Linked DNA regions of Homo sapiens. The protein of the gene in region 4 interacts with the protein of the main gene of each other region in a biochemical or structural test. Each region holds a gene or a part of one and is shown on either strand. Other genes may lie near its edges.

Evidence for each region.
Region 1: the proteins of FOXO4 (region 4) and XPO1 form a complex in vitro, tested with the Homo sapiens proteins (one study listed by BioGRID).
Region 2: the proteins of FOXO4 (region 4) and AKT1 form a complex in vitro, tested with the Homo sapiens proteins (2 studies listed by BioGRID, with this or other methods).
Region 3: the proteins of FOXO4 (region 4) and PIN1 form a complex in vitro, tested with the Homo sapiens proteins (one study listed by BioGRID).

Annotation. Positions count from the first base shown.
Region 1 is NC_000002.12:61,486,016-61,494,357, forward strand, and holds part of XPO1 (exportin-1), read right to left. Parts: intron 8,077-8,342; coding exon 7,879-8,076; intron 7,039-7,878; coding exon 6,900-7,038; intron 6,734-6,899; coding exon 6,552-6,733; intron 6,467-6,551; coding exon 6,310-6,466; intron 6,184-6,309; coding exon 6,020-6,183; intron 4,762-6,019; coding exon 4,627-4,761; intron 2,757-4,626; coding exon 2,573-2,756; intron 2,257-2,572; coding exon 2,150-2,256; intron 1-2,149. UniProt on the Homo sapiens protein: Mediates the nuclear export of cellular proteins (cargos) bearing a leucine-rich nuclear export signal (NES) and of RNAs.
Region 2 is NC_000014.9:104,778,300-104,786,641, reverse strand, and holds part of AKT1 (RAC-alpha serine/threonine-protein kinase), read left to right. Parts: intron 1-6,425; coding exon 6,426-6,554; intron 6,555-8,342. UniProt on the Homo sapiens protein: AKT1 is one of 3 closely related serine/threonine-protein kinases (AKT1, AKT2 and AKT3) called the AKT kinase, and which regulate many processes including metabolism, proliferation, cell survival, growth and angiogenesis.
Region 3 is NC_000019.10:9,844,959-9,851,172, forward strand, and holds the end of PIN1 (peptidyl-prolyl cis-trans isomerase NIMA-interacting 1), read left to right. Parts: intron 1-3,071; coding exon 3,072-3,182; intron 3,183-4,131; coding exon 4,132-4,241; 3' UTR 4,242-4,731; downstream 4,732-6,214. UniProt on the Homo sapiens protein: Peptidyl-prolyl cis/trans isomerase (PPIase) that binds to and isomerizes specific phosphorylated Ser/Thr-Pro (pSer/Thr-Pro) motifs.
Region 4 is NC_000023.11:71,097,509-71,104,032, forward strand, and holds the end of FOXO4 (forkhead box protein O4), read left to right. Parts: intron 1-3,175; coding exon 3,176-4,232; intron 4,233-4,568; coding exon 4,569-4,576; 3' UTR 4,577-6,024; downstream 6,025-6,524. Other genes in the region: uncharacterized protein CXorf65, read right to left, coding at 6,479-6,524. UniProt on the Homo sapiens protein: Transcription factor involved in the regulation of the insulin signaling pathway. Binds to insulin-response elements (IREs) and can activate transcription of IGFBP1.

The DNA.
Region 1 (8,342 bases), on a different chromosome or scaffold from region 4:
TTTAAACAACAAGGTTATTCCTGTCTATGAGATGTAGCATGATCATCTACTGAAAACAGGAAAATCTTGTGTTTGTATTAGGGTTTCCTACGTCAAAACAGTTTTTAGCAAAAGAAAGCAGGAAATCACAATGGGTTGGGAAGTCTCATGGACACACTGTCATTCAAGACTTTTTTTTTTTGAGACAGTCTCACTGTCACTCAGACCAGAGTGCAGTGGCAAATCTCTGCTCACTGCAACCTCCACCTCCCAGGTTCAAGCAATTCTTGTGCCTCAGTCTCCTGAGTAGCTGGGACTATAGGTATAGCACCATGCCCAGCTACAAAACTCTCACAATAAGAAAAGTGAGGCTCAAAATTCAGTGGGTGTCTCCAACTTAGGTGGCAGAATCAGGATTCTACGTATACTGTATATGTAAGATGGCAGCAAGCGAGCCCTCAATACTGTCTTTTTATTTTTGAGACGGAGTCTTGCTCTGTCGCCCAGGCTGGAGTGCAGTGGTGCCATCTTGGCTCACTGCAAGCTCCGCCTCCAGGTTCACGCCATTCTCCTGCCTCAGCCTATCGAGTAGCTGGGAGTACAGGCACCTGCCACCACGCCCAGCTAATTTTTTATATTTTTAGTAGAGACGGGGTGTTTCACCGTGTTAGCCAGGATGGTCTTGATTTCCTGACCTCGTGATCCACCCAACTCAGACTAATGTTTTAATCTAATGAATGCTAACTGGTGAGTATTTTCACAAGCAGAAATAACATCAATCAATTACTCTCAGAAAATAAGAAAGACTATGGATTTCTATTATTTTTTTGAAACTGAATCTTGCCATGTTGCCTAAACTGGACTTGAGCTGGGGTGATTCGCCTGCCTTACCCTCCCTGGTGGTTGGGATTACAGGTGCATGCTACAATGCCCAGTAAGATTTTCATGATTCTAAGTAAACTGAGTTATACTTAAAGAGTAACTTCTTGTTCTTTTTTTTTTTTTGAGACGAAGTTTCCCACTTGTGGCCCAGACTGGGGTGCAATGGCGCAATCTTGGCTCACTGTCACCTCCACCTCTGGGGTTCAAGTGATTCTCCTGCCTCAGCCTCCTGACTTCAAGTGATCCACCCGCCTCGGCCTCCCAAAGTGCTGGGATTACAGGCATGAGCCACCGTGAAAAGCCAAGACAAGGAAAATAAACACAATGTTTCATGTGAACAAATATCCCAAACTTTAACATTAATGTTACAAAAGATGATACCCTTTGTATTATTCCCACTGTGCTCCCGACACGTGCTCAAGCTTCTTGTAAATTACAAACATCACAATTCCTTCAATACATCTTACTTTCTGCTTTCAAATTTTAAATACAGTTCTGTTCACATAATACGCATGTTCAGAACCTTTCGATATTTAGGTTAGCCAACTTAAGTATTCCACAAGAATTATATTCAGAACAAGTTTACTGAAAAGTATTTCCTTAACAAGAAACAATACTGAAATTTCAAAACTATGAAAATAACTAGCACACTTGTAAAAAAAAAAACCAAAAAACAAAAAACCAACACTATTCCAAGTAATAGTAGTATTAGAATTTTTTGGACTCTCCCAAGGCTCAATTGAATAACAAGAATGAAACGATACAGTTAAAACCTAAAACTAATTCACAATTTTACAAGTTGAGGCATACGCAGCTGGTTTTTATTACTGAAAATGATTTCCTTTTCTGCAAATCATTTAGGAAAAAGGGTGTAAAAAAGACTTTCAGGCCTTTAATCTGGGAAGCAATCACTTTGCTAAAGAGGTAAAGTAATGACAACTTTGTAGCTCTAGCAATTGTTCTAAAAATCAAGAGGAATGCAAAAACTGCACCGGTACTCCATTAATTAAATCCTCCTAACCTATCTATGGAAACATAAAATGACCCAATTTTCTTAGCTATCTTGTTACATATCACCACCCTTCGCTACTGATTAACAGCAGTTTCTTTTGAAGATGGAATACAGCTATTAGTATATTAACGTAAGGACTACAATAAATAAAATGCCATAAAATAACCACAAAGTTGATATGCTTTAAATTAGCAAAATGCACATAATAGAGTATAGCATATTCCATAAAACACAGCATCAACACTAGAAATCAAAAGCAAAGCATCTCTCACTTACCATCTGTGGATCATTGGATCGGCTCACCCAACCAGATATTAACTTTAAAGTTTCCCTTTTTACAGTTCGCATACTTCTAATCAATGGTTGCTTTGTAACCATTTCACCTACAAAACAGAATCAAATGGAATCTAATTTTACCACTAAACTTATACAGTGGTACTCAGGTGTACATTAGATGCAATTCCATTTTACCATTAAAAAGTTTAAAGCCAAAAGTTCACAAAATTTATTGGGAAAATAAGCTTTAAGACTAATTTTAAAAGGGAAAGGTACACTTAACTGTTTTAAATATGTCTAGGGTCATTTGGGAAATGGGAGGTCTGATTTAAATCTGTAAAAAACATCAAATGTTTGACTTAAGGCAGTAGAAGAGAAGTGGTTTGTTTATACTGCATTGTGTAAGAAATCAGAATCACCTACCATTAGCTTGGATAGCTGCAGAAATATTTTCACTGAGGCACTTGTATACATTAAGCATATCTAAATAAATTCTTCCAAGCTGAATTACAAAGGGGTGTCCAACAGCTTTGCAGGCTCTCACATTTGTTTTCAAAATGCTACCAAGCTGCTTGACTGTTTCAGGATCTTTCAGTATATCCACATTCTTGGAGGAAAAAAAGCAAATTCCATTTATCATATAAGAATTATCCACGGCTGGGAACAGTGGCTCACGCCTGTAATCCCAGCACTCTGAGAGGCCGAGGCGGGCGGATGATGAGTTCAGGAGATCGGGACCATCCTGGATAACACGGTGAAACCCCGTCTCTACTAAAAATACAAAAAAAATAGCCAGGCGTGGTGGCAGCCGCCTGTAGTCCCACCTACTCGGGAGGTTGAGGCAGGAGAACGGCGTGAACGCTAGAGATGGAGTTTGCAGTGAGCCGAGATCGCACCACTGCACTCCAGCCTGGGCGAAAGAGCAAGACTCCGTCTCAAAAAAAAAAAAAGAATTATCCATCATAATGGCCAGGCGAGGTGGCTCACACCTATAATCCCAGCACTTTGGGAGGCTGAGTCGGGTGCATCACCTGAGGTCGGGAGTTCAAGACCAGCCTGACCAACATGGAGAAACCCTGTCTCTACTAAAAATACAAAATTAGCCAGGCACAATGGTGCTTGCTTGTAATCCCAGCCACTTGGGAGGCTGAGGCAGGAGAACTGCTTGAGCTCGGGAGGCAGAGGTTGCAGTGAGCCGAGATCACGCCATTGCACTCCAGCCCGGGCACCAAGAGTGAAACTCCATCTCAAAAAAAAAAAAAATCCACATAATTACCAAAGCAAAAGCCATTACGCTTCCCTTACCCTAAACCATATTTATAATCCCAAATGGTAAAAACGAACACAAACGCCTTTTTGTCTACATCTACTTAAGAATGAAGTAATATAGTTCTATTTTTTTTTTTTTGGGACGGAGTCTCGTTCTGTTGCCCAGGCTAGAGTGCAGCGGCGTGATCTCGGCTCACTGCAAGCTCTGCCTCCCAGGTTCACGCCATTCTCCTGCCTCAGCCTCCTGAGTAGCTGGGACTTACAGGCGCCCGCCGCCACACTCAGCTAATTTTTGTATTTTTAGTAGAGACAGGGTTTCACTGCGTTAGCCATGATGGTCTCGATCCCCTGACCTGGTGATCCGCCTGCCTCGGCCTCCCAAAGTGCTGGGATTACAGGCATGAGCCACCACACCCAGCCTATTCCTATTTTAATATCAAATGAGAATGGAAATTACAGTATTTTTTTTTTTTTTTGAGACAGAGTCTTCCTCTGTCACCAGGCTGGAGTGCAGTGGCATGCTCTTGACTCACTGCAAGCTCCGCCTCCTGGGTTCAAGCCATTCTCCTGGCTCAGCCTCCCGAGTAGCTGGGATTACAGGCGCCCACCACCATGCCTGGCTAATTTTTGTATTTTTAGTAGAGACGGGGTTTCACCACGTTGGCCAGGATGGTCTCAATCTCCTGACCTAGTGATCCACCCGTCTCGGTCTCCCAAAGTGCTGGGATTACAGGCGTGAGCCACCGAGCCCGGCCCAGATTTTTCATTTATTTTTTTTTTTTTGAGACAGAGTCTTGCTCTGTCGTCTCGGCTAGAGAACAGTAGCTCAATCTCGGCTCACTGCAACCTCTGCCTCTTGGGTTCAAGTGATTCTCCTGCCTAAGCCTCCTCAGTAGCTGGGATTACAGGCATGTGCAACCACGCCCAGCTAATTTTTGTATTTTTAGTAGAGACGGGGTTTTGCCATGTTGGCCAGGCTGATCTCGAACTTCTGGCCTCAGGTGATCCGCCCGCCTCGGCCTTCCAATGTGCCAGGATTACAGGCGTGAGCCACCACACCTCGCCCAGATAATAAATTATAGAAAGACACACATAAAAGCACTTATGGATCACACATACATGTTAAAAGGCTTGAATTCAATACATTTGTAAAGAACACGTCTTGTTAAATCCCATGAAAACTTTTAAGAAAAGGTAGAAATACTTACTTTGGTTGCCTGCTGGATTATACTATCCCACACTTGATTAGGGAGTAACATGTACTTTTCTATCAAGTGTTCTTGTACTGTTTGATCTGTTTGTGCACCAATCATGTACCCCACAGCTTCATAAAACGTATGAACCTATTTTAAAAAGCAGACATTTTAACGTTTATGTTATACACCCTAATAAGGAAAACCACACACAAGCAATTCACAAACGTCTTGAAACTGATTTTGGCCCAGGTGCAGTGGATCACTCCTGTAATCCCAATACTTTGAGAAGCCAAGGCAGGCCAATCACTTGTGGTCAGGAGTTGCAGACCAGCCTGACCAACGTGGTGAAACCCCATCTCTTCTACAAATACAAAGAAATTAGCCAAGCGTGGTGGCAGGTGCCTATAATTCCAGTTACTTGGGAGGTTTGAATTGCTTGAACCTGGGAGGCAGAGGTTGCAGTGAGCCGAGATTGCAATACTGCACTCGAGCCTGGGTGACAGAGGAAGACTCCACCTCAAAAAACAAACAAACAAACAACCCAAACTGGCCAGGCATGGTGGTGGCTCACGCCTGTAATCCCAGCACTTTGGGAGGCCGAGGCGGGCGGATCATGAGGTCAGGAGTTGGAGATGAGCCTGACCAACATGGAGAAACCCCGTCTCTACTAAAAATAAAAAAATTAGCTGGGCGTGGTGGCAAGCACCTGTTAATCATAGCCACTGAGGAAGAGAATCGTTTGACCCCAGGAGGCAAGGCTGCAGTGAGCCGAGATTGCGCCACTGCACTCCAGCATGGACGACAGAGTGAAACTCCATCTCAAAAAACAAACACACACACACACACACACACACACACACACACACACCCCAAAACAAAACAAAACAAAAAACACCTGATTTTGTTTGTTCGGAATAATTTTACATAGGACAACAGCCTAACAATCTTCTGGTCAAGAATCTGTCTCACTATGAAAATTTAACCAGGCTGGGCGTGGTGGCTCACACATATAAAATCATTTTGGGAGGCTGAGGCAAGCGTATCGCTTGAAGCTAGGAGTTCAAGACCAGCCTGGGCCACTTGGCAAAACCCCATCTCTACCAAGGGGGGGAAAAAGGTTAGCTGAGTGTGATGGCAGTGCATGCCTGTAGTCCCAGCTACCCACGAGGCCAAGGTGGGAGGATCACCTGAGCCTGGGAGTTCAAGGCTGCAGTGAGCCGTAATTGTGCCACTGCACTCAAGCCTGGGCAACAGAGTAAGACCCTGTCTCAAGGAAAAAAGAAAGAAAATTTAATCAGAAACACTTCTATTGGATCCAATAGTTGCCCTCCTATTTCCATTGATACATACAGATTGATACAAGTGTTACTTTCTAAAAATAACATATGCTCAGTGCTTAACATACCTGTTGAGGCTGAAGATCACAAATAATAGTGTTAATGTTGTTCAAAATTTCATCAATAAATGGCATCACTTCTCCAACCTGAACCTGAACGAAATGCCTGCGGCATTTTTGGGCTATTTTAATGAAAGTATCACAAGCCATATCCTGGACTCCATCATGGGTCTCTAACAAGACAAAAATATTCATTTATTTTGTCCTGGACTCCATCATGGGTCTCTAACAAGACAAAAACATTCATTTATTTTCTTCAATAAAAATAAAAGCAAAATATAGTAAAGAAAGAGATTTACCATGCATGAATTCGAACAGCTTGTTAACTACAGTCTTCAGAAATTTCCAGTGAGCTCTCAAAAAACGTGGGTATTGACCTACTATGTACATGATATTTGATGCAATAATAGCTTTATTATCTTTGCCTCTTTTCTGTTCACATAATCCTAATAGATCCTGTAAATAAGACAAATTTGTATTATTTATTGTAACAACATAATACTTATTTAGCAATTCTAATTCATACCTATCCCTTGCATACCTTTATAACAGTAACAAGAAATCGTTTTTCGTCCTCTTCATGCATTGCTCCACTAATGGAGCCTATTGCCCAACACAATGTATTCAAATTTTTCCATGACCACTCTGTACCATTCACTTGATTGTGAAGCTTCTCTGTCATTATTCTTTCTGTATCTACATAATCCAGATGAGTAAGATAAACTACAAAGAAAAACATGGTTTCAAATGCAAATAATGAGCAGAATTTTATTGATGAGTAACAATACATTTAGAAAATATTTAGAAACTACAAGTACATTTCCTAAAATGTATTTCCACCCCAGAATAGATTTATAAAGGTAAAGATTAACAGTATTTATTAACTTACCCAATGTTTCCCTCATATTCTTATACAAATTTATGGAATCTGTATCCTTCATGAATTCTCTCACAACTTCTCCTTGATCATTCTCTACAACCAATACTTCCTCTGGTTTAGCCATTCGACTAACCATTAATAAACGGACCTATACTCAACAATATATCAATCAAGAAAAAAATCGTTAGATCACTGAAATCATTAGTGTAGAAGCTTAGTTAAAAACAAACAAAACCAAAAAAACCACAAGCCAGCCATGTGTAGGGATTCATGCCTATAATTCCAACTATTCCGGAGGGCCGAGGCAAAAAGAACTGTTGTGGCCAGGAATTTGAGAGCAGCTTGAGCAACACAAAATGACACCCAATCTCTAAAACAATAAAAATACTGGGGCTTAAAGCACAACAGAAAAAACTATGTAAATATAAATGAAGTAAAACTAAAAAATTTAAAATTTGCTAGGCATGGTGGTGTGTGCCTGCAACCAATTACTTGGGAGGCTGACACAAGAGAATTGCTTTAGTCTAGGAGTTCAAGATTGTAGTGAGCTATGACCACGCCACTGCACTCCAACCTGAGCCACAGAGCAAGACCCTGTCTCCAAAAGAAAAAATTTTTTTTCACTGTAATTCTACAAAAATGGCTTTATAATTATTTAAGTGTGTTTTAATGTGATTTTTTTAACCAACTTCTGTTACAGGAGTTTCCTGTGTCTCATTCCTAGACTCTGGTTTAGTAGATTGGCAGGTGGCCAATGAATTTGCCTAACGAAATCACAACCAATGTTGATACTGAGAGAAGGACCACACTCTTGAGAATCAAGGTTCTAGACTCAACTCCTTTCATGTTCTAGTTTTCCACACTCATGGAGAAGTTGTTGGGTTCTCTTTTTATAGCTAATTTATTTACACAGATTAGAAGTATTTGGATTCAGACCTCAAAACCACAGTATGCAACAGGAAGAACACTCAACCAACCGCTCTGTTACCTTGAATAACATGGGCAAATATAGCTGTCTCCTGGGAGGAACATCAAAATGTTGACTTCCAGAAAGCAACGGAGAGGCAGATGTAGAGAATGGACTCTCTCTATAGAGTTCAGCAGCCAAATGATTCCAGTATTCAAGACAAATTTTAAAGATTTCAGTTTCTTCTACTTCAGATACCAACAACATATAATGAAGGGCCTACACAGAAGACCAAAACTGTTAAAATAATTCTTAAACATTACCAACTTCAAATTGCTTTTCACTTGTTACACCTTAAGGGAAAATAAAAATTCATGTTTTATTCATCACAACTCAGATTTCAATACTTATCAAATAGACAGCAAACTCTGGAGTAACTCTGCTTCTTCTGACATGCCCTAAAGCACTTCAAAAATCTCTCACATAGTAGTTGATCAATATGTATTTTTATCATGTCTCCTAATGGAACGACATTTATTTAAAAG
Region 2 (8,342 bases), on a different chromosome or scaffold from region 4:
AGGCCCCTCTGTGGCGGGTGCTTCCCATGGTCGGTGTGGAGGACGAGGTCCCTACTGCCTGGTTCCAGTTCCCCCAGCAATGCAGGGCACTTTTCCTGGGGTGTCAGGGATTGAGAGGCCAGCACTGGAGCCCTTCAACCGCCAGGGGCCCTGCCCAAGAGAGACGGGAGGAGGGAGGGGCTGTGGGCATGGCTGCGTGCCCCCGGCCGAGCCCCGGAAGGAGCCTGTGCCCGTGCCCACTTCCTTTCCCGAGGGCAGTGTCTACACGTGGGACACTGTGGCCAGCCCTCCCTCGCAGCAGGCACTGTGTGCTGTCCCCATGCCCAGCTTCCTCCCACGCAGGGAGCGAGGGTGAGGGCCCTGGGAACCCACTGGGTGGAGGGCACTTGGCAAAGCCTGCTGCAAGTTATGGGGAGAGTGGGCGGGGGCAGAGTAGGAGGCGCCAGGGAGGGGCTGCAGCCTCATCTGCAGGGGTCCTGAGTAGGCAGGGTGGGCCATGACATGGGTGGGGCTTGTTTGGGGCAGACCAAAAATGAGGTGGGGGACAGGGACAGGGACAGGGTCTTGGGATGTGCTGGGCTCTGCGATGGATGGGTGTGTGGCAGGTGGGGTGCCTTTGCCGGCCCGAGGGGTGGGTGACGGGCAGTGCCTGTGGGGGAGGACATCCAGGCCCAGGTGGTCTGTCAGGGGCAGCACCAGGGAGGCCCAGTACCCCACCCAGTAGAGCCCCAGGAGAATGGAAAGCTGAGACCCAGGTGCTTCCCTGGAGTGGCAGGAAGAGAGGCCCCAGCGCCTCCGGCTGTGCCTCAGCGAGGTGGACGGGGTCATGGTGGTGCCGCCTGCCCGCACCATGTTCCTCCCGGGGTGTGTGTGTCGGGCTGAGGCCTGCTCCATGGTGGAGCGGAAGGAGGTGAAGAATTTGCAGTTTGTGTCAAGTTACAACCCCTGCCTTGGCGGCAGGACCTGGGGTCTCTCTGGTCATGATCTGCCTCTGAGGGTCACCTCCCCTAAGTCTCCGTTTTCCCAGGGAGCTGATGGGCATGATGAGCCCTGCCCGCCCTGCCTGCCTGGTGGGCTTTCTGGGAGAGCAGAATGGGTCCTGGGCTGGGCGAGGCCCAGGCAGGTGGAGCGCCAGTCCTCTGCCTGGCGGGAACAGACACCTCTCCTTGTGCAGACTGGCCACTTGTGCCCCCTCAGAAGGGCTTGTGCCGGGAGGAGCAGTGGATGTATTTCACCCACAGACCTGGGGGCTCCAGCCAAGTGGGGTCAGCTGGCCTCCGTTGTGTGGCCCCTCCCCTGCCCCCACCCCAGCCTGGTTGTTTACAGGGTTCGAGGGCTGCTGGTAAAGGGGTGTGTACTCCCGGGCCCGGGCAGAGGCCTGGCAGGCCGGGCCCTTCGCGGTGAGCTGTGCGGTCTCCTGGCAGGCGGGGAGGGTGGGTTGCGGGCCCCTCATGGGCTGCCGTCAGCGGAGCCGTCTGCTCAATGTGCTGGAGAAGGTAAATGGGCCCCCGGCAGCTGTCGGGGCGATGGATGTGTCGGCAGTGGGGACCACGGTGGCCGCTGTCAGCTGGCGCCCGCTCCCAGGGCCTGCTGGGCTCACTTTGCTGTGGAGAAGCAGCTCGGTGCCGCCTGGCACCCTGCCAGCCGCTGCCACCACCGTCTCTGCGAAGTGTTTATCCAGCAGTTTCCTGAGAACTGGGGACTTTGAGAGAATGTTCAGGGAGCTGAGGACGTGGTGGCCTAGGGGGGCTGACACACCTGGTGGCTCAGGAGGTGGTCAGTCCCGGGACGTGGAGGGCCACCAGCTGGCCCTCAGGGGCCCACCCAGTCCTGCCCATGGCGCGTGGGTCCTGGCCCCCATGTCTAAGTGGGTGCCGCTTTGGGGGGCCTGACCCACAGTGTGGCCTGGGACACGTGTGTGAGGCGTGGAGAGGGTGGGCTGCCTGTGACTGTCCATGTGGTCCCCGTGGTGGTGGTGGGGTGGGTTGGGGGAGGCCAGGCAGGAGCAGCTTCCTCTCAGAACCCCGGTATTTGGTCCAGGAGGACTTCTGGGAAGGAACCCTCTTTCCCTGGGGGTGCTCCAGCCCCTTCCTGGGGATGAGCGGGGTTGGGGATGGAAGGTCACTCCTGCCGGAGGGCCACCCGGGACATCGGGATGCCAGAGGGACCAGGGCTGGGGTTGTGTGGGGCCCAGGAGGTGCAGGAGGAGTCGAGGGAGCCTGGTCTCCGCTGTCCCCCCGGGCAGGGACAGGAGTCTGGCCAACTGCCTACCCCCCACCGAGGGCAGCCACCTCCCATGCCTGGAGCCCTGGGCCATGGATGTGCTGGCTGGTGGGGAGGGTTACGGGTTTCATCAGGCACAGGAGCCCCTGCCCTTGTGGCTTCACAGGACCTGGTCTTGGATAGGTGCAGTGTCACAGGGTTAAGGGTCAGGGTGGCTCCCACCTGGCCCAGGGCTGGCCTTGAGAGAACCCTGAAGGGTGGGACCGGAGCTGCTGCCTCCCACTGCCCAGGGGGCCAGCAGGAGGGTGAGACTGGAACTGCTGCTTCCCCGCTGCCGAGGGAACCGGCCATGGGGCAGGAGGGTGGGACCGGAGCTGCTGCTTCCCCCTTGCCCAGGGGACCAGCCATGGGGCAGGAAGGTGGGACCAGTCCCCAGTGCCGTCCTCCACTCGGCCCCCCACTCAGGTCTTCTGGCAGTGGTGTGGGGTCCCCCATCCGGACTTGCTGACATTTCTGAAGGGGCACCTAGCCGTCTTCCCTGCCAGACCCTGAGGCCCAGGCCGGGGTTGCACTGGGACCCTGCCTGCTCCAGGTCCCGGGTCTGAAACATGTGCAGCGGGTGGGGACTTGGGGGTTCTTGAGCCCAGCATGGGGGTGTGAGAGTTAGGGACTGAAGAGGCCCCCTGGGCCTGAATGCTGGGCGGTCTCCATTGCCCTTGGGAGTGGCTGCTGGCAGGAGATGACTCTGGCTGTGTGTGGGGTGGGGCGTGCCCTGGCCTCCCCATTTGTTGCCTGCCTGTACCCGTCTGGAGTGAGGGCCTGGCGTGGCAACCTGGGGGTCTGTGCCCACTCTGTGTTTGGTGCCCTCAGCTGTGCAGGCAGGTGGGTGGGGTGGTGTTGGGGGGGTGACTGGGGTGGGGTGGGGGGATGCCAGCTGGCTGATGGTGGGGAGATGGAAGGCCCCTCTGTGGCGGGTGCTTCCCATGGTCGGTGTGGAGGACGAGGTCCCTACTGCCTGGTTCCAGTTCCCCCAGCAATGCAGGGCACTTTTCCTGGGGTGTCAGGGATTGAGAGGCCACTCTTCAAGTGGACTGTACTCCTGCCTCGAGTGGGGGGCATCTGAGGACCACAACAGGGTGGGGAACTCAAGTTAAGTCCTGGATGACAGGTTCCAGTTCCCCTGGGGACCCTCAGGATAGTGAAGGAGAAGACTCCATGTGGGTTGGTCTCTTTGTGTGAGGGGTCTGGGAGGGCAGCCCTGGCTGATGTGTCTGTGCTCCCACCCTCCTGAGGGACCCGGAGTAGGCAGGTGCAGGCCTGCAGGCGTCCTGTGGCCATGAGGACAGTGATGCTGGGCCCCGGGTGGCTGTCTCCTCCACCTGCCCCGTCCTGTGTCACCCCAGTCCTGGATCAGGGAGTAGTGGGGCCCTGCCGCATCTGCTGTCGGGGCTGGCCGCCCACCCAGCATCCTGTCTGGGCTGAACTCGTTAAGATGCGCGCCACGGCCCTGGCTGCAGCTGGCACCCCCCCAAGTGATCCTCTAGCTGACCCTCTAGGCGAGAGATGAAGAAAGAGAACTGTGTGTCTCTGGACCCCTTACCCCGGGTCCCTGGGGATCCTGCTCCTCCCCTGGAGGGGTCTGTGTGCTGGGCTGGGATGCCGAAGACAAAGGCCACGTGAGGCCCCTTCACTCACACCCGTCTCCTGGGGTAGGCCCTGATCGCCGTCTGTTCCCTGGGTCTGTGGGGCCAGGCGAGGGGAAGGCACTGAAAGCCCAGGGCCCATTTGGGCCTCTGCCCATCCCAGGACTCCCCAGGAATGCTCGGGGCTGGGCACCTGTCCTCTCCCACCCCCCACGCCTGGTAAGCGCCGCCCCTGGGCCTGCCCCTCCCGCACCCCCAGATCCAGCTCCCAGAACCCCCCAGATGCAGCTCACAGAACCTGGGGCTGGGCTTGTGGCAGCAGGGTCAGGGGCAAGGCTGGGGTTGGGCACGGGAGCTGCGTGCTCGGGGGCAGCACGGGGCCATGCTGGGCACGGTGGGGGCTGGCAGCAGTTGGTGGATAAGATGGGTTTCAGGGGTGCCGGGCCTGGGCGCTCATCAGTCTTCCCGCTCAGTTAGCGTCCCGGGGAGTGGCAGCTGGCAGGATGGGAGGCACTCCATCAGGGGCCGACAGCTCCAGACTGGCATGCAGGCGGGTGGGCGTGAGCAGCGGGGTGGCCCAGGATGGGGGACGGGTGGGGTGGGCTGCATGCAGCCCCCTGAGCCTGCTCTGCTCTCACTGAGCGCCCCTGCCTGCCCGCTGCACCTGCAGGGGCCCTGTGGCTGGGGGAGGGGACGTGGGAGGCGGGGTGGAGCTGCGTGGCACGTATGTGCGTGTATGTGCACACTCGGGGGTGTGCGAGATCCCAGGTCAGGGACAGGAGCCGGCACCCAAGGGTGGCAGGACCACGCCTGCTCGGCAGCCCACTGGCAGGGGCATGGAGGGCTTGCGGAGTGGGTGGGGTCTCCTGATGAGTGCTCTTGGGCACAGGGGCAGATTCTGGGCCCTGGATCATCCTCCCTGCAACTGGGTGTTGGCCGTCCTCCAGAGGTGTCAGGCAGCTATGAGTGGGCTGTGGCTGTCCCCTTCCTGGTCCACCCCAGACCTGACAACAGCCTCTTCCCACACTCAGGCCCTGCTGGGTGGGGTGTCCCCACCCTCCACCAGCATCCCCCCAGCAGCCCTGGCTTGGGCAGAGAGAGGGCTGGTCTTGTGGAGACCACGCCCCGTGGTGCTGGTGGGAAGGGCATTGGGCAGCTGGGGCCGGGGTAGGAGGGAGAGGTCACCTGGCCGGGGGGTGGCCATGTGTCGAGCCTTGGTGGCTCACCTCTATTAAAGAACTCCCCCGTGGCTCCCTGGAAAGTAGAATGCCTGCTGGGATGCCCATGACCCATGTCCTCTGAGCTCCCCTGGGGCTGCTGCCCTGCTGGGACTTCCCTGTGCACCAGGGAGGGCTGGACGCGTCTGGGCTCACCACGAAGACCCAGCAGGACTGGGTGGTGGGTGGTCTGGTGATGGGACAATTGCTTGTCCCCCACATCCCTCCAGGTGTCCCTGTCTGGGGCTCAGTGTGGCATGAAAACCCAGGCCCCAGAGCTCAGGGACCCCAACCCCTTACCCTGGCCCCCTCCCTAACCCCTGCCCAGTGACCCCTCAGATGAAGCAGTTGCCTAATTAGTAAGTTCCCTGTTGTTCAAACTCCTTGCTTGGCAAAATGTAAGTGGAACATTTTTTTCCGAGTGTCAGTATGAAAAATGGTACTTGCTGGGCTATCACCGAGGACAGCTGCTCTGATTCTGAAGTGTGAACGCCTGCGTACGGCTGATGCTGCAAAACTTGAGGGAGAATGTTCCCGTGTACCTGAATGACCCACGGGTGGGACGCGGCAGGGCCGACGGCGGCAGGGCCTGAGTGTGGGTCTCAGCCTGGGGACTTGGCACCCTCTGTGCCCTGGGGCCCCTGCCCAGCTGGCTGGGCCACCTCCGTGTCTGGCTTCATCGGCAGTCCCCAAGACGGTGCTCCAGGCCCCTAGACAGGGAGTGCGATCCCACGGCAGTGGGCAGTCCTGTCCCGCGAGCCCGGCCCTCAGTCTGAGTGGTGCTGACCTCTAACTGTGGACGCCATGCTCCATCCTCCTGGTGGGTGGCGGCGGGGCGGGGGGGGCGGCCATGCTGGGCAGCCCACACAAGCCACTGTCACCTGCTGTCGCCACCTGGCCGACCCTGGTTGATTGGGGAATGCTGTCAGCCCCGCAGCCCCTGTGGCCATAGCTGGGGCCCGAGCTGCTGCTGGTGCCTGCTGGGGACTGGCTGGTTTAGGGCTGCCTCCTCCAGGAAGGCTGTGCAGACTGGCCCAGACCTCTTCCCAGCCTCCTGTCCATGGTACTCCATCCCCTGCGTCCAGCTGGCCCAGCCCGTTTTCAGACACAGCTCGGGGTGGCTCTTCTGAGAGGGGCGCTGTGGTGGGGCGAGTCTGCCTTCCCGTTGACCCAGGGCCGTTTCTGTCGCTGGCCCTAAGAAACAGCTCCCGTACCGCGCCTGCCCCCTGGGACTCAGGCATCCCAGGCACATCTGTCCTGGCACACCCAGTTCCTGCCTGGCTGCCTGGCGAGGGTCTGACGGGTAGAGTGTGCGTGGCTCTCACCACCCGCACGTCTGTAGGGGAGTACATCAAGACCTGGCGGCCACGCTACTTCCTCCTCAAGAATGATGGCACCTTCATTGGCTACAAGGAGCGGCCGCAGGATGTGGACCAACGTGAGGCTCCCCTCAACAACTTCTCTGTGGCGCGTAAGTATCCCCTTGGCCTCTCGGGATTCAGATTTGGGGGGTTGGCTGGAGCCCTCTTTGCCCACCAGGCCCCACGATGGGGGTCCCCTGGAGCCTCCAAGTCCTGGGCTGGCAAGCAACAAGCACTGGCTGGGTGGGGGTCTCTGGGCCGAGTCCCGAGGCTGGCTGGGCAGGGGTCTCCGGGCTGAGTCCCAAAGCTGAGGCTGGCTGGGTGGGAGTCTCCAGGCTGAGTCCTAAGGCCGAGGCTGGCTGGGCAGGGGTCTCTGGTCCAAGTCCCGAGGCCGAGGCTGGCTGGGCAGGGGTCTCCGAGCTGAGTCCTGAGGCTGGCTGGGCGGGGGTCTCTGGTCCGAGTCCCGAGGCCGAGGCTGGCTGGGCCGGGGTCTCTGGGCTGAGTCCCGAGGCCGAGGCCGGCTGGGCAGGGGTTTCTGGGCAGAGTCCTGAGGCCGAGGCTGGCTGGGCGGGGGTCTCTGGGCCGAGTCCCAAGGCTGGCTGACCCTGGAGCAGTTCCCTGGTGCCCATGCTCTGGAAGCTGGAGGGTCCGGACAAGTGGCAGCAGAGCCCAGTCTCAGGGTGGACAGCTGCCCCGGGGGCCCCTCCTCCAAGGGGGTTAGATAGAGCCCATCAGGGCCTCTCCTTGGGAAACCCCTTGGGTGAGGGGGCAAGAGTCCATTGGGGTCTCCAGCTCTGAAGCCTCCATCACTCGAGGAAGAGCTCGTGCCTCTCCCTGCACAGGCTCTCAGCCTCCAGACCCCATGGCAGAGCCTTTGCTTCCCCTCTGTGAGGCTGCCTCCTTGCCCATGGAGGGGCAGGTGCAGAAAGGCCAGCGGGGGACCTTGGCCGGAGCATCCCACAGAGATGAGAGACATGTGACGCTCCCTGCTCCGCCCTGCTGTGGCTTTATTCCTTACCTGTAGCGGGGGCAGGTGCGACCCTACCCATGTCAGACGGGAACCCTGGCATGGAGACCCAGGCGCCCTGCTAGGTGGGAGGCTGGGGACACGTGGGCCTCCCAGCATGGTCCCCATTTTCTGTGTCCCTGTCCTGGAGCCCAGCTCTGCCTGTGGCAGCCAGAGACACGGGTTGGGCATGCAGGTGTGACTGAGTGGCTAATTAGGGCCCAGTTGTGGGCCATCTGTATGTGGCAGGGCTGGGTAACTGCAGGCCTCTGGGATCTGTCTCAGGCAGGTCTGTGGTGCAGAGCGAGGTGCCCACCAGGGGCTGGCCTTAGGTTCCATCCCCATGTGCTGCATCGGCCCCTCCCCTCCAAGTAGCTCTGCCCTCCTTTCTTTGAGGCCTGCGGTCCTCCGACTCCCTTGAACTTGCTGGACCCCCAGGTTCTGGTCCAGGGTCTGGGAGGAGGTTAAATGCAGGGAATCCGTCCCCAGGCTGGGCAGGGAAGGACTCCCACCCTTGGTGCCTGCACGTATAAGGGGAGGTGGGGTCAGTCTGGCACCCTGGCTGCTAGGTGGTCTGTGGCCAGCAAACCGTGCCCTGAAGCTTCTAGTTGGGAGGGGCAGAGGCCTTGCCCTGCAAAGCCCCAGGCTGAGGGGCTGGGGTTGGGGTGGGGTTTACCAGGACCTGGTTCCTGTAAGCCGAGGTCTCCTTCCCTGGCTCTTCCAGCCTCAAGCCAGCAGTAGCAGGGCAGCCTGATAGAGTAGGGCACCCCAGGGGTGAGGGGAGACCAGGAAGGCAGACACCCCTGTCTCCTGACAGCCTCGTAACCATGCAGGAGACTCACTGTGACTTGTCCCACACCCTCCCCAGTGTCTCCTCGGTTGGGGCTGGGGG
Region 3 (6,214 bases), on a different chromosome or scaffold from region 4:
TTCCTGCACTGTGAGGCGGGCAAGCAACACACCAATGGGACGGTAGTAAATGCAGCACCCAGGGGGAGGCACCTAACACAGTGGGGGATTAGGGGAGGCTTCTTGGGGAGACCAGAGGATAGCTGATGAGTTTCAGGCAGGACAAGAGGCTTAAACCAAGGTCTGCGAGGTGGGAGTCGGAGGATGTCATTGTCGCGGGGTCAGGTACAGGCTGAGCTAACAAGACACACAGGACCAAACCCCTCAAGGTCAGCCTCACAGAGCAGGAACTCAGGAAGAAAGCGTTTTTGTTTGTTTGTTTGTTTGTTTGTTTGTTTGTTTGAAATGGAGTTTCGCTCTTGTTGCCCACGCTGGAGTGCAGTGGCAACGATCTCAGCTCACTGTACCTTCTACCTCCCAGTTTCAAGAGAAAGCGTTTTTTTGTTTGTTTGTTTGTTTGTTTGTTTGTTTGAAATGGAGTTTCGCTCTTGTTGCCCACGCTGGAGTGCAGTGGCAACGATCTCAGCTCACTGTACCTTTCTACCTCCCAGGTTCAAGAGAAAGCGTTTTAAAAAAAAAAATCATTCCAGCTACTTGCGAGGCTGAGGCAAGAGGATTGCTGCAGCCCAGGGGTTTGAGGCCAGCCTGAACAATAAAGTGCGACCCCATCTCTGCAAAAGGAAAACAAAAACAGTCATTGCAGGCTCCCATCATAGCAGAAAATTTTCCAAGAGAGCTGGCAGGTCAGAGGCAGATCTGGGTGATATGAGCTATTGGTGTGCCAAAGTGTGGCTTTTATTTGTTTTTAAGTGGTATGGCTTGCACACTATGTGTGTGAGAGAGGACAACTTGGGCGGGCTGTCCAATTTCAGGGATCCCTGTGGCTGTGTCCCCAGCCCTGGCCGCTGGGGGCTGTGGCAAGGTGATGCTTGTTCAGGGCCTGGGCCTGGCTCCTCAGACGCTCAGTGCCTGCAGGCAGTCCTGCTTCCCCGAAGTAGGTGGGTACCTCTGGGGGCACCGTGCGATCCCCTGGCTGGCTTAGTGGTCCAGACAGAAGGGGGGACAGGGGACTCCAGTGCTCTGTGCCTAAGGCCAAGGAGATACCTAGAAGTTCAGGGAGAGGAGGGGTGGGAGGGGGTCCTAGCAACATCTGGTTTAAGTCGGAGTCACTGGTGGATGTGTCTGGCACAGAGGAGGACCCCGTGGCAGCCCTGGAAGCGGGGCATTCTGATCAAACCAGGGCATCACGGGCAGAAGCCTCTGTAATGTGCCATCCCAACAGAAGCTGGGGCCCTGTATGGCATCGATGTCCCTGTCAGACCAGGACACGTGGGCCGGCAGGGCCAAGGATAGGGAGAGCAGAGCAGTAGAGGCTGCGTCATCCCTGGGATGCAGTCCCCATGGAGGGGAAGAATGATGACAGCAAGGGACGTTGGTCAGGGTCCTGCTCGGTGCCGGGCACTATGCTGCATGTCACAGCCACTGGCACAAGACTGTCAGGCGGAGGGGCACAGGGATGTCAGGGCAGCAGGTCGTGGTGACATCCAGCTCAGATACCAGGACACTGGTGGCTGCCATGACGTGCAGCCAAACAGGGAGCTATGGCTGTGCTCTCACGGTGGTACCATTTCCACTGCAGTCCCAAGCAGGTTAGAGCGTGAGGCCGAGGGGCCCTGGGGACACTTGGATCAGTCCAGTGTGTTCAGCAGGTGCCACGGTTGGGTGTCCAGGCCTCCCAGCACTGGCTAGGTCACCCAGCAGTGTTCCCGTGGGTCTCCAACAGGCTCCAGGCCAGTGTATCAGCTATGTATGTCCTGGGCAAGTTGGCCGGCAGGTGTGTCATGGCATCATTTAGGTCAGAAGGAGCAAGGGTAGAAGTGTCAGGGTGACATTAAGAAACCCCCTACTGAGTGTGTCAGGGTGACCTTCACGTTGGAGAGAAGAACTGGTGTCCCTGGAGAGTGGCTGCCAGGCCTTAGGGTACACGGGGCGGGTGCAGTTCACCCAGAGGGCTGCCCTGGCTTGCTGGGGCTGTCGCACCACTGGCCTAGGGAGGACACTGGAAGGGACGCCCGTTTGTGTCAGAGCAAGAGGATTGGGGTAGGGCAGGCTTTGGCCCATGGGCACCTTCCTGGGGGTGGCCTGGAGTCAGGAAGGCGGTAGCCATTCCTCCTGACCTGGCACGTGCACAAGACTGCATACACACACTTGCTCACACACAGTCACACCACACACACCACGTGCACACACACGCAGCCCTCCCCACTTGGCTTCCGAAACGTGAGTCACTCAGATGCTACTCTGCTGCCGTCTTGCCCCCTCTGCTGGCAGCCCTGTTCCTCCTAACTCCACCAGCCCTGGCCTCCTCCGCCTCCTGGAGAGTCAGAGCCGATGGGCTAGTTTGGGCCACACAGGGTGGGGCCACCCTGAGTTCTGCCAGCATGCAGACTGTAGGTGGGGAGCCGGGAGAAGAGCTATGTTGCCTGCCTCTGGGACCCTGGGGCTACAGCCCACGAGTGTCCCTTGCAGAGCCCACCAGGGTGCCTTGGAGGCCCATCCCAGTGCCAGGCTGTTCTTCCCAGATGGGACAGCTGGGGCCACAGGCTGCCGTGGCAGTGCTGGGCTTTCTCTGGACAGCTCTCCCACCTCTGCCCAGGGGGCCCGGGGGGCCAGCCCCCTGCCTGGGTCAGCCTCTCCCTGCCTGCTGCTCTCCTCTGGCCCATCCAGCTTGTATGTAGATTTTCCCTCACGTGTGTGTGTGTGTGTGCATGTGTGTGTGCTGGTGAGAGTGACAGCGGGAGCAGGGATGTGAGACCTGCAGGGTGGCAGGGCTCATGGATGACTGGCGGGGTGCATTAAGTGCTCATGCTCGTGAAAGGCACCTCTTCTTGGGTGTGGGTGAGGACAGGTGTGACTGCGCATGCAGGTATGTGTGAGGAGAGGGGTTGTGGGGAGCATGTGCGCCTGTGAGGGGAGGCTTTCCAACTGAAGTGCTGCCTCCCCCGCTGGCCAGCTCTGGAGTCCTCCATCCTGTCTGGTCAGGCCCCCCCCAACCCCTGACCTGGCACTCCCATTCCGTTCCATGTCCACAGGCTACATCCAGAAGATCAAGTCGGGAGAGGAGGACTTTGAGTCTCTGGCCTCACAGTTCAGCGACTGCAGCTCAGCCAAGGCCAGGGGAGACCTGGGTGCCTTCAGCAGAGGTGCGCAAGGAATGGGCCTCACCAGGTTGGGGGACCCTTACCACCCTGAGGGGTAGAGGCCAGGAGGGTCTGGGCATTGGGCTCCCAGGTGCCACACCGGCCTTCGGGGTCCAGCAGGTGGCAGCACAGCCCCTTCCTCAGGCTTCAGAGGCTGCTCTGCTGGGCAGGGCCAGGGCCACACAGGGAGGGGGGCTGCAGCACTTTCTTCCTGGCATCATCTCTACCCTGGGGGGCATGGTCTCTTGTGTGTCTGTGCACAGATGTCCTCATCCCAGGCCCACCAAGGTGGGTACATCCTGTCCTCTGCCTCTTCCTTTTTGTGGTTTAAGGTTGAGGGCCCTGAGAGTCCCAGGGCCTGTCCCCCAGAATCCCTCTCAAAGGTGGGGAAACCAGGGGTGAGAGGAGGTGGCCCTGAGTTTAGGCCTGTCTGGCCAGGACAGTGGAAATCAGGGACAGAGGGGACTAGGCCTCCTCCTCTTCCTCCTCTTCAGTCCTCGGGGTCTACAGAAAAACATCAGGGAGAGGCCAGGATGGGTTGCAGGGTGTGGTGTGCAGGTGTCTTAGTGGGGTGGGGCGGCAGCATGGGGCCAGCAGCTGCCCACCTCCTCCGAGGAGGCTGGTGGGACAGATGACATGGCAGGGCTGGGAACCAGGCCCAGGGAGACGAGTTCACTACCGAAGTGGCCCCTAAATGCACGGCGGCGGCCGTAGCCCTGCCTGCTATCCTTCATGCTGTCCTCGGGCTTCCCAGGGCCTCCTTAATGGCCCTGCCACCCCCAGCTGGGCCGCCGCTCAGCACTGGCAATAAACATGGTGACGGATGAGTGTGGACGAGTGTGAGGCTCAGCGCAGGCAGGAGCCCCATCTGTCGCGGCTGCCACCCGCCCTGCCTCATCCTGGCCTCTGCCAGCCCAGCCCTGACACCCCCACCGCCCCTCCTGGCTCCCAGGTCAGATGCAGAAGCCATTTGAAGACGCCTCGTTTGCGCTGCGGACGGGGGAGATGAGCGGGCCCGTGTTCACGGATTCCGGCATCCACATCATCCTCCGCACTGAGTGAGGGTGGGGAGCCCAGGCCTGGCCTCGGGGCAGGGCAGGGCGGCTAGGCCGGCCAGCTCCCCCTTGCCCGCCAGCCAGTGGCCGAACCCCCCACTCCCTGCCACCGTCACACAGTATTTATTGTTCCCACAATGGCTGGGAGGGGGCCCTTCCAGATTGGGGGCCCTGGGGTCCCCACTCCCTGTCCATCCCCAGTTGGGGCTGCGACCGCCAGATTCTCCCTTAAGGAATTGACTTCAGCAGGGGTGGGAGGCTCCCAGACCCAGGGCAGTGTGGTGGGAGGGGTGTTCCAAAGAGAAGGCCTGGTCAGCAGAGCCGCCCCGTGTCCCCCCAGGTGCTGGAGGCAGACTCGAGGGCCGAATTGTTTCTAGTTAGGCCACGCTCCTCTGTTCAGTCGCAAAGGTGAACACTCATGCGGCCCAGCCATGGGCCCTCTGAGCAACTGTGCAGCACCCTTTCACCCCCAATTAAACCCAGAACCACTGCTCTGCTCTCCTGTGTCTCATTTCTCCTCAGGGAAGCATAGTGGGGAAGATGTCGTGGGGAGGGGATCATAGCCCCCCCATCCTAAGGGTCCCAGCTGCAAGTTCTCCCCCGAGGCTTCCCCTTGCCCTGGGCCAGGGGGAGTCACAGCAGCTGGCTCTTGGGGACATGGGCACTGTCCAGCTGCCCAGCACCCTGAGATCTGCTTCCCTGCCATCTCAGGGGCTTCCAGAAGGTTCGTGGGTCCAACCCGGCACCTGGCCCAGCACCCATTGCAGCTGCAGTTACCATGACAACAGGGCCCTCCCGGACTGGAGGGGGCTCCTGCAGGGAGGGGGATGGGAGCAGACATGGCTTTTAGTGCCTGAAGGTGGAGCAGAGGGAATCCTGGGGTGGGTGGCGGGGAGATGGGGTCCCCCGCCAGTGTGGGGGCTGTGGATGTGGCATGCCTGACCCCCATCCCCTGTTCAGTCGGGGGGCTGTGGGTCTGATGGAGAAGTGGTTATTCCTGCATGCCCTGTTCCCCCTCCACTTGATGGGGACCAGCCCAGATTGCGGGGGTGCCTGGCTGGCAGAGCTTAGGGACCTGAGCAACTAAAGCCCGGCCCCAGGGGACCTCCCCTCCCCCAAGCGCTGAGTTTCTAATAAAGGCCAAGCCTCATAAACAATCACCTGTGCCCGCTCCCATCTGGCTGGCTTCGGGAGCAATCGCTCATTCGCCTGCTGCCTGCCTGCCGGAGCATTTGTCATTAGGAAGGTTTAATGGGTTTCCTCTCAGCTCCAGAGGGCTGGGGAGAGCCGGCTGCATGGATACACCGCCAGGCAGAATGTTCTCCCATCGCCTGGTGGAGGGGGGTTGGGAGTGAGGCAGCCATGCCACCATTCACACCAACAGTTGGATGTGGGGTTGGGGAAGTGACTGCACCCCTCCTGGAACAGTAGAGGCCCTGGGTCTGGAAGGATCGGAAATTAGTGGCTGGGGCCCAGAGGGTTTGCTGAGTTCCACTCCAGGGTGAAGAATGGGCTTTGTGTCCTGACCATCAGCAGCAGGGCCCAGGGAAGGCTGTGCATCGTTCTGTGTGGGAGCCGCTGCCCCCACCCGTGTGTATGTGTGTCTGCGTTTGCCCAAGAATGTGTGGGGCCATGTGACTGGTCGTCTCTCTGTCCTGTGCATTTTGGGAGTCCTCCGGTTCTGAGAGTCCTCCGGTTCTGAGTGTGACCACCTGCCCCTCCAGGTACCCCCTTCCCTTGTCTGTCTGTGCAGTGGCCAAAACCCAAATGAGAATGTCGCTGTTAGGTAAACATGCCTCCAGAGCCCACTTCGGGGCCGGTGATTCATTATTAAGCAGCTGCGCATTCCCTCACCTCCCACCCACCCCCTCACCCCCTCCTGTCTAGAACCAGGGCATAAATCCCAGGCCTTTAGGATGGTGACAGTGTAGTCTTCCCTAGTGCCACTTACAGGCACCTCCCAGGCCAGACCCGCCCCAG
Region 4 (6,524 bases):
CAATAATATTCATGGGGAAAGGTAGCTGATCTCATGCACTAAGAAGAAAAAGGGCTGTGAGCTGCCACTTGGCTCAGCTTACCCTGTGCTGCCAAGAAACTCTCCCTTGTAAGGGGCTATCCAAGTTTTGGGGGGAAGTCATCCTTTACTGTTAAGGAATATTAGTCATGAAGAAGGAGGTAGGGCTCTGACTTTAGAGCACAAAGTTGGGAGTTCTCTTGGCCTTCTGTGAAGAAACTGTGAGAGAATATCTCAAAGGATACTCTGAAAAACTTGTCCTGAGAAAATATGGGGCTGTAATCACAAAATTGGGGAGCCTCAAGCCCTATTGCTGGCTTGTACCTCTCTAGGTGGTGAGGTCAGCATATAACCAAGTACAGAAGGTTGGATGAGCAGAGGAACTTCCCCTAGGTATAGGAGACTGAGGGATCAGATCTGTGCTATCCCTAGGGGCTGGGCAGAACAGAAGATAGGACAGCTGACTGAGACCCTTGGCACTATTTCTGGGTAGACTGCCACGCCACAGTCTCAGCTCATAAAAAGCTCCCCTCCTTGGACCCAGCCTACACAGCTGTTTTTCTTTTCCCTTAGGTTCATTTTCCAGGGTAGAGGAAATAACAAGTTGTTAGTTATATTGTGGGAGTATAGTCCGTCCTTATAATCTACACTTCTGTGGGGCTTTAGAGTTTACAAAGTAGTTTTTAAAGTTTTTATTTTATTAATCTTTACAGCAATTCTGAGATTCCACATTTTACACATTAGGAAACTAGGTACCAAAAGGTTAGGAAATTCACCTAATAACAGCAGGGTGAGGACTTGAACTCAGGTCTAACTATAAATCATATTCTCTAAAAAGAGCCTGGCTTGCTCTAATTGGAATGAGGGCAAAGTCAAATCAGGCTGAGCCTGGGACTTCAAGGCCCCCCCACCCCTCTCTGAGGGGAAGTCTCATGCCTGAACTGGCCTCCCTGATGATATGCCAAGGTTACTCCCACCCCACCAGGGGGCGGCACTCACTTAGAACAAGAAAGTTTAGATTAGGTGGCTTAGGGAGCAATTAGCAGTCACCCCCACCACCCTGCCCTCCAACATGTAAGAGTTATGGGCTTTTGGGAAACTGACCTCTCCAATTAAGAGTCTGTGTACCACTTGCTAGTTCCAAGGCCTAAAGAAGAGGAGACAAACGGGCCTTGTGGCTATTAAGTAGTAGGGAAAGGAATGGATCTTCTCAAGTAGATCCAGAATTAGAGGATAAAAAGAGGAGAAATCATAGTGCCAGGTCATGGTCATTGTGGTCCTTAGTTACTATGAGGTGAGGCCGGATGGACAAGTGCCACTCCTTGAAGGAACATCAGCACAGTTGAAATGCCATTACCTCAGGGTCCCAGGAACACAAGGAGTTCTTTGGCTAAAGAACCCTGGAACAAGAAGCATCATTCCCCAGGCAAAGGTGCTCCTTATCTTAAGAGCACCAGTCAGAGAAACAAGTAGTTTCTGACCGTCCCATGTACTCAGCCTCCTAGTTGCTCTAAGCACTTCTGGGCTCCTCCTGAATTTCTAAACTAAAGACCTCCAAGTGGGAGGTCAAATGCCCCCAAGGTTGAAGAGTTTATGCACAAATTCCTGAGAAATGGGGGAAAGGCACTGGGAAGGAGGTAGGGAAAAGAAGGCAGGTTTCGGGAAGGGGGGTGGCCAGGGGAGGGCCAAACCCCTTGTGTAACTAGCCTGCCCCGCGGCAATCAGTAAATATAAGCTGCACTGGGGGCTGAAGAAGCTGCCAATCTCAGCTCCCTGGGCCACTGGAAAGCATCGTTTCCCTAGTAGAATGTCACCAGTGAGGGAGGAAGGGAAAACATACAGCTTCCAATACCCAAGGCACTGAAGAGCTGGCAGAGCCTCAAGGGGAGCCTCACCATTGTCAACCCAGGGGCAACCCACCAATCAGGTACAAATATTGATTATGTACTGTGAGCTTGAGTAGGTATAGAATATGTGCTGTGAGCTTGGTGCTCTGGGAGGGCTTTGATGGGGGATGTGGGACTGGAGGACATTACACTTGGCACTTACACTCGATGAGACGAATTACATGAAACCATAAGCCACACAATATAAATTGGGTGAAATTGTGTGGCGCAGATTTTAAAAATACTATACTAGAAATTTGGCTGCCAAAGTCAAGCAGCCGCTTTATAAAAGAGGTGGAACTGAAGCTTGGTCTTGACGGAACTAGTAAAACTTAGAGAGGGGAGATCCCTCCTCGGAAAAGAGGGGAGGGGAAGATTGCACCTCACGCATTTGAGGCACAGCAGGAAGCCTGAACCTGAACTGAATGTAGTTGAGGATGTGTGTTGTGGATTGGAAGAAATAAGGCTGGGATTCAGGGAGGGGGGAAAAAGGAATCTTTAAATTCTATAGAGAGCTGGGTGGCCCAAATGCTCTGTGGGGAATGGAGCACCTGCTGTGCTGAGATTCCAGCCCTTCAGCCTATTCAGAGAACTGGCTCTGGGCAGGGCGGGTCCATCCTGGGCTGGTGCTGTACCACTGTCCCGTAAACTCTACCCAAACCTGCACTCAAGGAAAGGGGTGCAATGCTCTTTCCCACCTGAACCTAGTTCTTGCTGGGCAAGGAGCACGTCTCCCCAGTGCCCACCAGCCCCAGGTACCGCTCCCCCCACCCCCCGCAAAACACACACGAAGCCCTGGGAAGAGCAGAGTACCAGGAGCTTTTCCAGGGTGGGCATCCCCCGTGCTCTCTGCAGTGGATTATTACACGTTATCTCCCACCCGCTGTACAGAGAAGTCTGGAGCAGAGGCTGAGCAGCTTGTCTGGGAGCGGGAAATGTGTGTGGTCTCCCCTCACACCCCACCCCCACCCCTACTTCTACCAGTTTTCCCCCCTGGATTCAACTTTCTTTGAGTCTCCAGGAATACCCCTGCTGTGTTCCAGCACCCTTTTATCTTTTATCTTTTTCTCTTTTTTTGTAAATTATTTAAAGTTTTTCTTAAACTTTAATGACCTGGGAAATGAAGCCCCGAAATGAACCCTGCTGCGGTGGTGGCACCAAATCCTAAACCCTAGATCATCAGGGTCCAGCATCCTCTTAGACTTGACCGCTGGCCACTGACCTCCCCTACAGTACCTCACGCCCCTTTCCTGCCATCTCTGCCCCTCCAGAACTCGATCCGCCACAACCTGTCCCTGCACAGCAAGTTCATCAAGGTTCACAACGAGGCCACCGGCAAAAGCTCTTGGTGGATGCTGAACCCTGAGGGAGGCAAGAGCGGCAAAGCCCCCCGCCGCCGGGCCGCCTCCATGGATAGCAGCAGCAAGCTGCTCCGGGGCCGCAGTAAAGCCCCCAAGAAGAAACCATCTGTGCTGCCAGCTCCACCCGAAGGTGCCACTCCAACGAGCCCTGTCGGCCACTTTGCCAAGTGGTCAGGCAGCCCTTGCTCTCGAAACCGTGAAGAAGCCGATATGTGGACCACCTTCCGTCCACGAAGCAGTTCAAATGCCAGCAGTGTCAGCACCCGGCTGTCCCCCTTGAGGCCAGAGTCTGAGGTGCTGGCGGAGGAAATACCAGCTTCAGTCAGCAGTTATGCAGGGGGTGTCCCTCCCACCCTCAATGAAGGTCTAGAGCTGTTAGATGGGCTCAATCTCACCTCTTCCCATTCCCTGCTATCTCGGAGTGGTCTCTCTGGCTTCTCTTTGCAGCATCCTGGGGTTACCGGCCCCTTACACACCTACAGCAGCTCCCTTTTCAGCCCAGCAGAGGGGCCCCTGTCAGCAGGAGAAGGGTGCTTCTCCAGCTCCCAGGCTCTGGAGGCCCTGCTCACCTCTGATACGCCACCACCCCCTGCTGACGTCCTCATGACCCAGGTAGATCCCATTCTGTCCCAGGCTCCGACTCTTCTGTTGCTGGGGGGGCTTCCTTCCTCCAGTAAGCTGGCCACGGGCGTCGGCCTGTGTCCCAAGCCCCTAGAGGCTCCAGGCCCCAGCAGTCTGGTTCCCACCCTTTCTATGATAGCACCACCTCCAGTCATGGCAAGTGCCCCCATCCCCAAGGCTCTGGGGACTCCTGTGCTCACACCCCCTACTGAAGCTGCAAGCCAAGACAGAATGCCTCAGGATCTAGATCTTGATATGTATATGGAGAACCTGGAGTGTGACATGGATAACATCATCAGTGACCTCATGGATGAGGGCGAGGGACTGGACTTCAACTTTGAGCCAGGTACAGTACCCCCTAATCACCACAGCACCTCATAGCCTATTACCACTCCTAGGTGCCCAGCTAGTCCCATGATCTGGGCGAAGGGGAGATTTAGGACAAGTGGTAGCCAGAGCTCCTGGGGAACTGGAGGGAAGATGTCATATTACAGTAGCATAGTTTCCGGATGGGACCTCCAGGCCCCTTAGCTGTGCCCAGCCCTGCAAGGTAGCACAGAAAAGGTATGTGTATGGAAGCGGGTTAGGTGCCACCATCTTCTTTGGTGGGAATCTGGATGATAGAATGTTGGCAAGCCCCAGGTAAGCCTCTTACCTTGTTCTCTGTTTCTTCTTCCCACAGATCCCTGAGTCATGCCTGGAAGCTTTGTCCCCTGCTTCAGATGTGGAGCCAGGCGTGTTCATATCTACTCTTTACCCTTGAGCCCTCCCCAGGAATTTGGGACCCTGCTTTAGAGCTAGGGTGGGGTCTGGTCACACACAGGTGTTGAAGAAATTATAAAGATAAAGCTGCCCCATCTGGGGACGATATGGGGAGGGAGATGGGAGGGGAAAGGGGAGAGGGTTTTTCTCACTGTGCCAATTAGGGGGTAAGGCCCCCTCTCAGGAGCCATCATCGGCTTTCCCCATTCCTACCCACTTAGGCTTTGTAGCAAGATGAGCAATGCTGTTGGAAATGTGAAGTCACCAGTGGCCTTACCCCTGCCTTTGGGAGCAGGATTTTTTTGTAGAGAGTCTTATCTGAGCTGAGCCAGGCTAGCTGGAGCCTGGGATTTCTATGCAGTGGCCCCTTAGGCCAGTGATGTGCGGTGGGTGGGCTGTTTAGGGGATCTGGAAGGGCCAAGGTCTGAGCACTGGAGTGGCTCGCCAGGCCAAATCACCCTTAGAAGGCTGCAGATAACAGAAAGGCTTTTTATAAACTTTTAAAGAAATATAAACACAAATATAGAGATTTTTTAACCATGGCAGGGTGCTAGTGGTGGGCAGAATGCTTTTTTTTCTTTCTGAAGGCTTTGTGATAGTGACATGATACAAACACTACAGACAATAAATATTAGGAGACACAGGGAAGTGGGGAGAGGTGGGGAGTAATAGTAAACACAGGGAAGAGCTCCCCTACGGACCAGGTATAGAGAAAGGTCTATGCAGAAATAGGTTAGAGTTTCCCTAACAAAAAAGCTAACCCAGGTCCCCTCATTCCTTCAACTTGTGCCTGGGAGTGTGTGGTGTTAGGGTGCAGCCACACTCTTCTATGACCCAGCATGGGTTAGTGCTATGGTGGGAGAGTACATTGAAGGCCTGGAATTAGCTTGGGGCCAGGGAAGGGACTGGGAGGGGAGAGAAGAGAAGGAGGGAAGGATTTAGGATGGTAAAGTTAGGTACAGAGACCTCCCTGTTCAAGGCCCCTGACAGCTGTCCCTGCCCTTCTTCCCCTTCCCTGACTGCAGGGGTTATGTGGAAGTGTGTGTGGCAGCAGGCAGCGGGGAGGGGAGGAACAGGGAAGGGGGAGCTGGGGAGCTTGGCTGAGGGTCTGGGAAATGAGCAGGGATGGGGGGGGATGTGGATCAGGTTTACTAGCACCTGCCAGGGAGGCCATCTGGGGCTCCTTCTCCACCCCAGCCCCCAAAGCAGCCCTTCCCCCAGTGCCCTTTGCATCGTCCCCTCCCCCACCCCTGCTGTGGGTTCCCATCATTTCCTGTGTCAGCGCCTGGCCTACCCAGATTGTATCATGTGCTAGATTGGAGTGGGGAAGTGTGTCAAATCAATAAATGAATAAATTCAATAAATGCCTATAACCAGCTCTGGTTTCTGCTGCCTTGCTTCTCCCCTTGGATAAGGGGGAGGGAGGGGAAAAGGCAAAGGGCGGGAGGAAGAAACTGCCCAAAGGCAGAGACATGGAGGAGGGTGGGGGAATTTCACCCCGGGGAGGTGGTGGAGTGTGGGGGTGGAGGGACACCTAACCCCTGCAGGAGTAGGCGGGCTGTGAGATAGGCCTCCCAAGGGGAGGTAGTCTGGTTTGAGAAGACCCCACCCCCTACTCCGTTCCTCAAAGGCTCATTGTACTAGACTTCACAGCCTTCCTCACCCCCACCCATGTGCTTGCCCCAGCCCTCTCCTGCCGCTCCCATCCACCCTCAGAGCCTCCTAGGTGCCTGGGGCGTATGTACTCAAGCCTTAGTGCAGATATTGGGAGAAGGAGTCTTTCTAGAAAAAGAAATCTCACGTTAAATTCCAGTAATTTCACACCTAGTATTACTTCTTTTGCTTGGTGGTTTTATTGAGTTGGCGACCTTTATTC